3 linked regions of the Homo sapiens genome follow. The protein of the gene in region 3 purifies or fractionates together with the protein of the main gene of each other region. This does not show direct contact. Each region holds a gene or a part of one and is shown on either strand. Other genes may lie near its edges. The genes, in order: XPO7, ECHDC1 and TMEM108.

Region 1 (3,656 bases), on a different chromosome or scaffold from region 3:
CTAATGTATTGCTACCCAAGATAAAACGACAGATTCCAAATACAGGAGTATATTAGGCTGAAGGCCTTTTCTGTATAGGGTAAATCAGACAAATAGTTTGTGAAGCTTCATCTGAGTCTTCTATTTCAAGGTTACCTTTTCTTCTAAGATATTCATTTCCTTTCTTGTTCTTAAAATTGGTTTGAACTTCACTTACCAATGGATCTTTCCAGGTCACCCTGAGTTGTGGGGAATGGGATGGGGTCACGTAAACAAAATTACAGTAAGCAAAACCACCTTGCATGATCCCTTCCAGGTACTCGGAGTTGACAGCTTTATGACATCTTGTGAATGTAATGGAGTCCTGAATTATTTCACTGCTTCTTTAGAGAACGGTGTGGACAAAGGTAAGACTGGCTAAAATCTCAATAATTACTGATCCCATTTCCTTATCTATTTTCATCTAGCATGTATTTCTGTAAGTTACTTCAAGGCACATACAAATAAAATAAGGGCAAGCATATGGTTTGATCTCTCTGTGGCCAGTTATTTCCTTCTGTCTTGCATTCTTCTTCCTGTTTTGTAAACAGGAACACAAGCCTTTAGAAAGCTGGATGCTGCTAACTCCTGCTCTATTTATAGCAGTGGGTGAGCAAAGTAATTTTCACAGAAAGAGGATAGTGATCATGAGACAGGTCCAGGGCATAGGGATCACTGTGACACTCAGAAGAATAATCCAGAACCTGAGCGTTTTCTACATCCAGTGATTACTTGGCAAACTCAAAATCCACTGCAACTTTAAGACACGGACTTCATCTCAGCAGCAGGAACCTGATGAGATGTCATGTTAATCGTGTGTGGGCTCCCCTGTCTTGCAGAGGTCCTTCCTCTGTCGGACACCCCATCACTGCCTCCTAAGCCTCCACTTTCTTACCTGCTGGATCATCTCTGGATGCTGCTGCATGATGTGCAGAAAGCGGTCGCTCTCCTGGTTCAGGGGTGTGGTCCTCTTCTTGGTGCTACGTGACAGCTGCTTGAAGAGGTATGTCACAATGTGGTCCAGGCAGGAGCAGCAGCCTGTGCATACCATGGTGTCTGCAAGAAAGAAAGGCAGGGGTAGGACAGAGCTGCTGATGGTGGCCTGGACAAATATGGACTATCTTTGGGTGAGATCCATTAGGGTACCGTGGCCAATTCAACCAAGGCGGTTGCTCAAGATGACTCCTGTTAACCTCTTAACCTCATTGTACAGTAGGGCTCAATTTCTAAGTTTGAAAGTGAGTATGTGGTAATAAAGAATACTGAAATTATCGGCTCAATGTGTTGTGGATGTACGTACATCTTCTGCCTCACACAAAATAACAAATAGTTTGATTCAGCAAGTGCTTCTTTTGTGCCAGATGTTGTGCTAAGTACTTTATAGGTGTTATCTCTAATTTATCCTCTCAAGAACTCAGGAATTAGGTTTTCTGTTTTACAAATGAGGAAACCAGAATTAGGAGAGGTTATGTATCGGCCTAAGGATCAACTGCTAGTAATTGCAGGAGCTGTGATTAGAATCCAAGAAGCCTGGGGTATGAGCCTATGCTCTGAGTTACCAGTGGGATGTAATTAAACCCAGAATGACGTAGCCCCTGAATGTTTATGGTTTGTTAGAACACGGTATGCTGTATTATCTGTTTATCTCCAAAGCATCTCTGGGGGGAGCTGCAGACTCATCTATGCGTCTTTACAAAGGGAACAGTACAGCACAACCTGTGGACAGAACTCTGATGAGGTAAGGCCAAAGGACAAAGGGGCTGAACCCTTAAAAGAGTAAACAAGTCTCTGATTCCTACGGGACTGATAGTTTATGCAAACGTCCCTCTACTTGCTTTTTCTTTCTTTTTTTTTTTTTTGATACGGAGTCTCGTTCTGTCGCCCGGGCTGGAGTGCAGAAGTGGCACGATCTCGGCTCACCACAGCTTCTACTTCCCGGGTTCAAGTGATTCTTCTGCCTCAGCCTCCAGAGTAGCTGGGACTACAGGCACACACCACCACGCCGAGCTAATTTTTGTACAGAGACAGGGTTTTGCCATATTGGCCAGGCTGGTCTCGAGCTCCTGACCTTGTGATCTGCCCGCCTCAGCCTCCCAAAGTGCTGGGATGAGCCACCACGCCCGGCCAGGTCCCTGTATTTTCAATAAGACATAAAAAAGTCTTCCAAAGCAAGGGCTGATACCTTGATTGGACTGTACTAGATACGGCTATGCACCCTGATAGACTGATAGAAGTAAATGTGTATCAAAGTCGCACAGAGGCATGGATAATTCACCACAGTTGACAATCCAAAAGTGTATTTGCAACATATCATCACTATTTGGCAGTTGACTTAATCCTCCTACTTATGTTTTGCTCAGCCTAATATAAAAATGTGTTTTATTCTCTGAACACATATACCTACTAAGATTGTTGGGCCAGGCACGGTGGCTCATGCCTGTAATCCCAGTATTTTGGGAGGCCAAGCCAGGCGGATCATGAGGTCAGGAGATTGAGACTATCCTGGCTAACACAGTGAAACTCCGTCTCTACTAAAAATACAAAAAAATTAGCCAGGCATGGTGGCGGGCGCCTATAGTCCCAGCTACTTGGGAGGCTGAGGCAGAAGAATGGCATGAACCCGGGAGGCAGAGGTTGCAGTGAGCTGAGATCGCGCCACTGCACTCCAGCCTGGGCGACAGAGCGACTCCGTCTCAAAAAAAAAAAAAAAAAAATTGTTGGAAGGTAGCCTAGAAACAAAATGGTTGACAGAAACCATATGGACTAGGATGAAAAAACTTATGGAGCTAGCTGCATGAAACCTTTCCCCAGCTTCCACGGCCCTCAGGACAGAATTCAAACAGCCTAATACGGCTTACAGGCGGGCCCCCTTCATGATCTCCAGATTTGCTCCTGCTTATCTCTAAAGCTTCATTTCATTCCTAACTCCTCTGGACTAGTGTGCCAGCCATCTGGATTTCCTGGTTCTTTCTTGCCTACAGGTGCAAGTGCTTGCTGTCTCTGCTGCTAGGAACCCTCCCTGGCTAACCAGGGTAACATCTGTCCAGCTTTTAGGTTTATGCTTTGATGCCAAGTCTTCCAGCCAGTCTTCCTTGATCCTGACTTCCTCACAACCAAGAGTCTAGGTATTCTTGAGGGCTTGTGTAGCACTTTGTACTCACCCCTATTGTAATGTTTAAGTGGTAAGTATGGTAAACAGGCAGTTGTTTGTTCATGTGTCTGTTCTACCCACCAGATAAGCCCCTTAAGGACAGGGACTATATGCTGTTAATTACCGTATCCTCAGTGCTTCCACAGGGCCTTGTACTTAGGAAGGGAATCAGTGAGTGTGTGCTGGATAAGCATGTGCTGTGCATTATATACTCTATTGTTATGGCCAAACCCCCAAGGCAGTGGTGATCTTTTTGGACACTGGGGCAAGATTCTCTCTTTCTGTTTAGTTAAGTGGTAAAAAACAAACCCACCAACTCACCCACCCACCTCAGGTGCTTACCAAGTGCAGTAAGTCCTTCAGAAATGGAAGAGAGAATATACATGATGACGTGAGGTTCCAGGCTTGCAATAAAGTTCATATGGTCCTGGGTCAGGACTTCCAGTAGTGAATAATAAGACTGGCTGAGCTTGGGGTAATCCTGTGG
Region 2 (3,656 bases), on a different chromosome or scaffold from region 3:
CATACCCATGTCTGATGGGTATGTATCTAGGAATGAAATTGTTGGGTTGGTGTGCTGCGGCCCAGTCTACACTGATGATTAAACATTTATTTTGCAAGTTGGTTCTTTAAACTATCAGTAGCTTGAAATTGACCATGGTGGGACTACATGACATATCAATCATACTCTCTTTCTCTTACACACACACACACACACACACACACACACACACACACACACACACACAGTTTACCAGTATACCACCAGTTATAATGTATGCATTTGCTCAACCTTAGAATATACTGTCAGTTTTTTAAAATAGCTGTACAAATGTATATTCCCACAGGCAGTGAAAGCTCCAGTTGCTCCACAAGTATCACTTCTTCTTTGTTTTTTCTATTTTAGGCATTCTAGTGGATGGTATCTTACTGTGGTTTCATTTTGTGTTTCTATAATGTCTAACGAAGATAAACCCCATTTTCTTATGCTTATTGGTCATTTGCATATCATCTTTTGTGAAGTTCCTGTGCAAGCTTTTTGCCCATTATTTCTATTTATTTGCCTTTTTATTAATTTGTTAGAGATCTTTTATTCTTCTGCTCACAACTTTCCTAAAACCTACAAGACATGAATCTCACATTTCTATCTCTAATTCAGACCTTATGCCTGTACTCCTTAGTATTGCCTAACAGAAATGCAATCCCTTACCCCTCATTTCTAGATTTATCATAGGCTTCTCAAAATCATTATTTAATCCTGAACTCATACTTCACGTAAAACCCATTACTCCTTCTTTCCCTGAACTATTCATTGTATCATCAACCCTGTAATCTATGCCAGAAAACCTCTAAATCAACCCAGTCTCCTTCTCCACCACTATTTGGAGGTCCGTATGCAATGGCCCTCCAAAATGGTTACTTCCTTCTGATCTTTCCCTCTCCTATTACTAATACAGTTCAAACTTCATTACATATAATCTGAATTAATACAACAGTCACCAGTTAGTAGCATACTGTTCTTTAGAGTAATGTGGATATGATTATAATCCAATCAGGACATTTCAAATTTAAGGTTTCTCAGTAGCTGTCTACCAAAAGGATCAAGTCCAAAGCTTTTTTTAAATTCTTACCTAAATCCTGAATCTCTTCTCGTCTGATATCTCTACACAATCAATACAGAACACCAAATAACCAGAGTCCCACAAATTTACCATGCTATTTTATATTATTGCTTCTCCCCTATATTGTTCTTTCCTCCCTCATTAACCTGGTAAATCCCCAATCATTTTTAAAAACTGAATTTCTATATTTCCACCTAAAAGTGATTCCCCAAGTAAAGATAATCACTCCCTTTATTTATCCCAGCTCAGTATACTGCAATAATGTTCCATTTTAACACATTCCTCAAATCATTTCAATTTTTCATTTGTTTTTCTCAGTTGGAAGGATGCTTCCTGAGAGTATTCTGAGGTACATACTTTGTGTCACTAGTGGCTACAGTACTTAATACATAAAAGGTACTTACTTAATAGTTAATGAGGGAGAATGTAGGCAAGTAAAAAAAATAACTCATCACGCAGCCAAAAGGAATGCCACAAACTTGTTTTATAGCTTTAAAAATATATCTAATATGTGAGTTATAAAATGGTATCAGAAACTGACAGAGAACATATAAAGGTTACAATACAATATCTGGTTTCCACTTTAAGTCACATGGCCTTCAAGTGACATTTTTACCAAAGTGTTTCCAATGAATACTTACCTGAACACACAGTGGGATGTAATCCCCTCAAACACATATATTTCAAAAACTTGAGAACAGTATTTCAAAACTTTACCAACTAAGGTGGCTTATAACTACAATATTGAAGATACCAAGACCTTTCTTAAATCTCCTCAAGGAGACTGAAGTGTAACTCAGATAAATTGTGACCTAATGCATTATATTTTAGAGTGTGACAAAAAAAGTAGCGGGGTGCTTGTCATCTTAAAAAATGGTATCTAAGAATAAAAACTTGATGTTATTTTTCCAAGAAAAAAAAGATGTTCTAACTTGCCATCATAAATCTTTGATAGGACCTGCTTTTAACTGTCATAACTTTATTCTTTCCCTTAATTTCAAATCTGTTATCGTCTTTCTTTGTATCCTCCCTCCCTCCCACCAAAAAAGTCACCAGTTGCCAGCAGCTATGGTTACCGAATAAAGAATAATGAAAGCACTGGGTGACCTACTTAATGAATTGTGATTAATAAGGTTTGGGTCAATGTGATATACAAAACTAATAAGCAACTAATAAGGAAAGTGGTCAAATGTTACAAGTTGCAAAATATCTAAATATTTAGTATTTTCAATACTTTAATGTCTTCATCTATTGGCAATTCCATACTCCTTTTCCAAAACTCATACAGTATAACTTATGAGACATCCTTCCATCCCATCACCTGTTCTGTCAAATTAGAAAATGATACGGTATTAACTGATTCTATGGTATTAACAGATTTTAAGGTATCTAAGGCCTCCTGAAGAACTAGAAAGCTAGAGGGAACAATGATCAAACATGATTTTGCAACATTCTAGGATATTTTCAGTTAATTCAAGGTACCCTGCAAGATTTTTAAAATAAACTTCAAAATAAAAGAATCTAATTAGAACATGGAAATGTTTAGTGACACAATAAAGGCAGAATGAAAGTTTATATCACAGATGTTCTCACCACCTAATTTAGTGCAATAATAGGTACTTTACCAGTACTACATAAAATTACCGGGCATGTAGAAGAATGAGAGGATACTGTGAAACTAAATAAAATTTTTAAATGCCAAAAATTACTGCCATATACTTAAATAATAGATTATTTAATTTTAAACAAATGATTCACTTGAAATAATGTTCCTGCAAATATTATTTTCATTCACTGAATATTATTCCCCATATTTAACTTATCTCTTTCCCTTATATAGCTCCATTACCCAAAACTGCAGTCTGGTTCAAAGACCTATTTCCCTGCTTTCCCAAAGGGAAGTAAAAGTTCTGTCTATGGAAAGGAAGTATTTCTGAAATTATTACCATTAGTTATCTACCATTATTGGAAAATGAGCTATCCTGGTCAAATAAACTCTCTCTTTAACTGGAAAGCAAAACTTTCCTGGGCAAGGACAAATTCTGTGGTTGAGAGTTTTCTTGCTCTAAGGCACACAGAACTGTATTTTTAAATATTTTACCCTGAAGGAGAAATAAAGTGATAAGCATAGAAAATTCAAGTCTACGGAAAATGGAAGCGGGGAAAAGTTTTACAAATAAAATGTTACCAATTACAAAGTGTGAAGTGGTTATGAAAAAAACACCAAGGATTTTAGACACTTTCTAAGTTATCACTCAAATGTAAATATCAAGTTGCCTCAAAATCTCTTAGCTAGTGGAAGCAACTTAAACTAAAAATTTCAGACTTTATTGAGAAATGCCAAGCAATGGGGCTTGAAACAAATTGGTTAACCACACTGAGGACTAAGCTCTGATTTTTTAATCTTGCCCAAATTCCCACCTAAGGGGTCTGGGGAGTCATGCCCTACAAACCATAAATTCTCATCAGATGGGTTTTATTTAACCCTGTATATTGTGACTTACTTTTCAATCTGACTCTGGCATAACATTCTAAGACAAGAAGAAAATATTTAATT
Region 3 (3,599 bases):
AGACATTTTATCAACAATGGCATTTCTTCCTTACCTTATGATTCATACAGCAGTAAGTACTCCTCAGAAAGTATCTGTTATGTATGTTTTGTTTAAAAATAAACTTCAGAGAATTAATTGTGGCTAAGCAAATCTGGCATGAGCCAGTATACCTAGGCCTATAGTTGAGTCTTTGTCCTGAAATGGCTTGAAGGTTCCAAGACATTAGCTGTTTTAATTGGAAGAAGCTATGACTTTCTTTTTTTCTCTCTCTTAATTAGTACCAGGGCCCAAATCCAAGTACAGCCATTTAGTAGCCCGTAAATGTTTGCTTGTCCTTGGTAAGTGAAACCAAAACCCTGCCAAAGCCATACAGATTACCTTCTGGGCAGTGGATGGCCTATTTCTAGGCTTTTCTGCTCCTGCAACTGAACATACAGACTGAAATTTTCATCTGTCACTTATTATGCAGTCACACAGAGATGCAGATCCATTCAGCTCAGCATCACTAGTGCTATAAGAAATGGGGCAATAATTCTGACCAGGCTCTGGAAGGACTCAGAGCGGGAAGGAATTGGCCCTTGAAGCCTCTTGACAGGTCTGTTAGATCCTGACAGGTGGGTAGCAGGAAACAGGCGAGTGAGTCTAGGTGTATTCAGGAAGGAAAAGCAGAGAAGTTTCCCAGAAGTCTGTGAGAAAGAGGCAGGAAGTAGTCTGGGTGCAAGTGGACTGAGTTTTGCCACTAGTGCAGTGAGCCATGCACTGTATGTGTGTCATGCATGGCAAGTCCCCTCAGACTTTGACAAGGAAAGCAGTACCATCTCTGGCAACCTGGGATTGGGGTGATTCCAGAAGCAGGGAACATTTTTTGAAAGCTGCTATAAAAATATGAAAGAACAGCACAAAAATTAAAATATACACATACACACACACACACAAATTAATTAAAAGAATGGCATAGAGGGCTGTGCACCTCAGCATTAGCAGTAGGGATGATGAAAATGTGCACCAAGCCATCAGTGCTGAAATAAATGTTCCCATGTGTACATTTCTTTAAGAATGGCCACCTCTTAAGCCTTCTCCAGCTCACTCCATCTCCTCCCTCTCTCTTCCCAGGACCAGCTCTCAGAGCCCCGCTCCCCAGCCAATGGCGACTATAGAGACACTGGGATGGTCCTTGTTAACCCCTTCTGTCAAGAAACACTGTTTGTGGGAAACGATCAAGTATCTGAGATCTAACTACAGCAGGCATCACTTTGCCATTCCGTATTTTTCGTCTCTAAATTATAAATATACAAATACATATATTATAAATATAACCTTTGTGTAACCCTGACTTAATGAGAAACATTTTCAGCTTTTTTTCCTATGAATTGTCAACATCTTTTTTACAAGTGTGGTTTAAAAAAAAAAAAAACTTTACAGAATGATCTGTGGCTTTATAAAATAAAGGTATTTCTAAGCAAAGCAGTTGCATTGATTGCTTCTCTTAATAACTATTCTTGAGCACCTGGGGATCCCAGGAACCCTGGTCAGGTGAGGTAAGAGACTGACCTCCTGTAGAAGCTGAATGTTACAGTGCAAGCGCACGATTCTTTGAGTGATTCTTAAAGCTCTGGTTCCTCTTGATTTGGTGTGACCCCATTTCCTCCCTTCTCATACGCACACCTGTAAAGGGAACTGGACCGCCTCAGGGGAAGACGGCAGACTCATGCACAGAGAAGGAAAAGGGAACATCTCATCACCTCTGAGGATGAGTACCCTGGAGCCTTATGACGGCACCATTGGATGTCATGTTTAATTCCATCCAAGTTGTGGATGGCAGGCAGGAGCATGGAGCCCTCAGGAATCCATGGAGGACATCAAGGCATCCCAAGGCCATATTCCCCTAACATTACTTCCACTGCTAACAACAGGACTGCCTTTCCCTGGTGGGAAAATGCTCCCTTTATGCCCATTCCTGTATCCCCTCCAACACCCACATCTGCATTAAACACCCGTGCCTTTCTCTTGGAGAGGGTTTAGATGCAGATCCCGGCCCTGGAGCTTTAAAATGCTTGCCCTTCCTTCTTCAAGGATCAAATGTTTATTGGGGTTCAGCTTTGTTTTCTCAAAAGGCCATGGTATCGTGCCCCTGAGGAACATGTTTATCTAAGAAGCTTTGAGGTAGTAGAGCGATAATTTTTGAAACCTTCCTCCTGCAATCTTTAAAAAAGAAAAAAAAGATTGCCCAAACAAATCATTTGGGAGAAGACATCATTATACTCCTACTTGGCACTGCAAACCTGCTCGCAGCACCAGCCGGTGGACTTGCCATCCAGCTCTCAGCTTCCACTGCTCCCCTTGTTCCCGGCCGGCTGGCTGCCTCCCCGTGCTGTGTCCAGCACGGCCAACAACGTCAGACCCTCAGAGACGCCCAAGGGGCTTCCAGAGGTGGCCGCTTCTCTATTTTTTCCTGATTGTGGCTGAGAGAGATGATTACTGCTTTGACACTTCCTTTCTCTAAAAGAAAAATAGTTTGATAGTATATTTTGAATATAGATGCTCTTATAGTCAGATTGGGAATTGAACTTGAATATTGGGTCATATGTTTGTGTTGTTGCTGTAGTCTATCATGACTTTTTTCTTTCTGCATTTTCCTTAAAAAAAAAAAAAAGATGGCCTTCAAAAGTGTGTTCTCAATGTTGTATGAACCTCCTTCACATGAGTTCGGTTGTTGTCTCTCTTCAAAGACTCTTCAACCCACAAAGAAGCAACTAAATGTTTCTCTAAGTTTAATTTTCTAGCGTGTTGTTGTCTTACCTTTTTAACCTTACCATAATATTTCTGTTAACTGTTACATTTAATATACCAATGTGTGTAAGTATACAGAGAAAAATCTGTTTGTAAAGTAAAATTTATATATAATATATGTAATCAAAGATACATATGTTATATATACATATGTGGATGTATGACTTATTTTTCCTTATCCACAGATTTCAGCTACCATGTATATATAAATAAACTTATTTTATTAGCCAGAGGATTCTGTTGCTAATACATTTTGCATTCTTTTCAAGATAAGCTCTAAGTCTTCCTTAAGCAGTACCAACACCACTTTATATCCATCTGTATTTTTTAATCTGATTTAACAGTAAGTTGAGTTTTATGTATGTGATGAGCTAATAGGATTAGCAGTTTATCATTTGATAAAATAAATCTTTTTGAACATGTTTGCAGTTTCTCCAAAACAGACTCATCTTTCATCAGGTCTTTGGAGACAGTGGTGTCAAAGTACATCCCCCCCTCTTTCTCCCTGTCTCCAGGGCTGAGTGGATTTATATAGTAAATATCTTTGGTCCGGAGAAGTCTGAAGTTAACCTGGCCATTGAGTGTTACCATTCTGTAGAGAATAACAATGCCTAAACATGACACATTTGTGCACAACTTAATCAGTAGCCTGAACTTTTCATTCAGCCTTGGACAATACATCTTGGAATTCACAATAATGCAGATCCTCAGAACCAAGTCAGTGTCATCCGTATAGGAGGCTGTTACTGTAACACAGGCTCGCATGCCCCTTCTGGGTGCATCAGGGGTGGTGTTCACAGCATTAATGCTACATCTGAATAAACAAG

Evidence for each region.
Region 1: the proteins of TMEM108 (region 3) and XPO7 purify together in Homo sapiens (affinity purification with mass spectrometry; 2 studies listed by BioGRID and IntAct, with this or other methods). This does not show direct contact.
Region 2: the proteins of TMEM108 (region 3) and ECHDC1 purify together in Homo sapiens (affinity purification with mass spectrometry; one large-scale study listed by BioGRID and IntAct). This does not show direct contact.

Annotation. Positions count from the first base shown.
Region 1 is NC_000008.11:21,999,530-22,003,185, reverse strand, and holds part of XPO7 (exportin-7), read right to left. Parts: intron 3,651-3,656; coding exon 3,512-3,650; intron 1,075-3,511; coding exon 914-1,074; intron 1-913.
Region 2 is NC_000006.12:127,333,490-127,337,145, forward strand, and holds part of ECHDC1 (ethylmalonyl-CoA decarboxylase), read right to left. Parts: intron 1-3,656. UniProt on the Homo sapiens protein: Decarboxylates ethylmalonyl-CoA, a potentially toxic metabolite, to form butyryl-CoA, suggesting it might be involved in metabolite proofreading. Acts preferentially on (S)-ethylmalonyl-CoA but also has some activity on the (R)-isomer.
Region 3 is NC_000003.12:133,394,769-133,398,367, forward strand, and holds the end of TMEM108 (transmembrane protein 108 isoform 1 precursor), read left to right. Parts: intron 1-1,095; coding exon 1,096-1,218; 3' UTR 1,219-3,007; downstream 3,008-3,599. UniProt on the Homo sapiens protein: Transmembrane protein required for proper cognitive functions. Involved in the development of dentate gyrus (DG) neuron circuitry, is necessary for AMPA receptors surface expression and proper excitatory postsynaptic currents of DG granule neurons.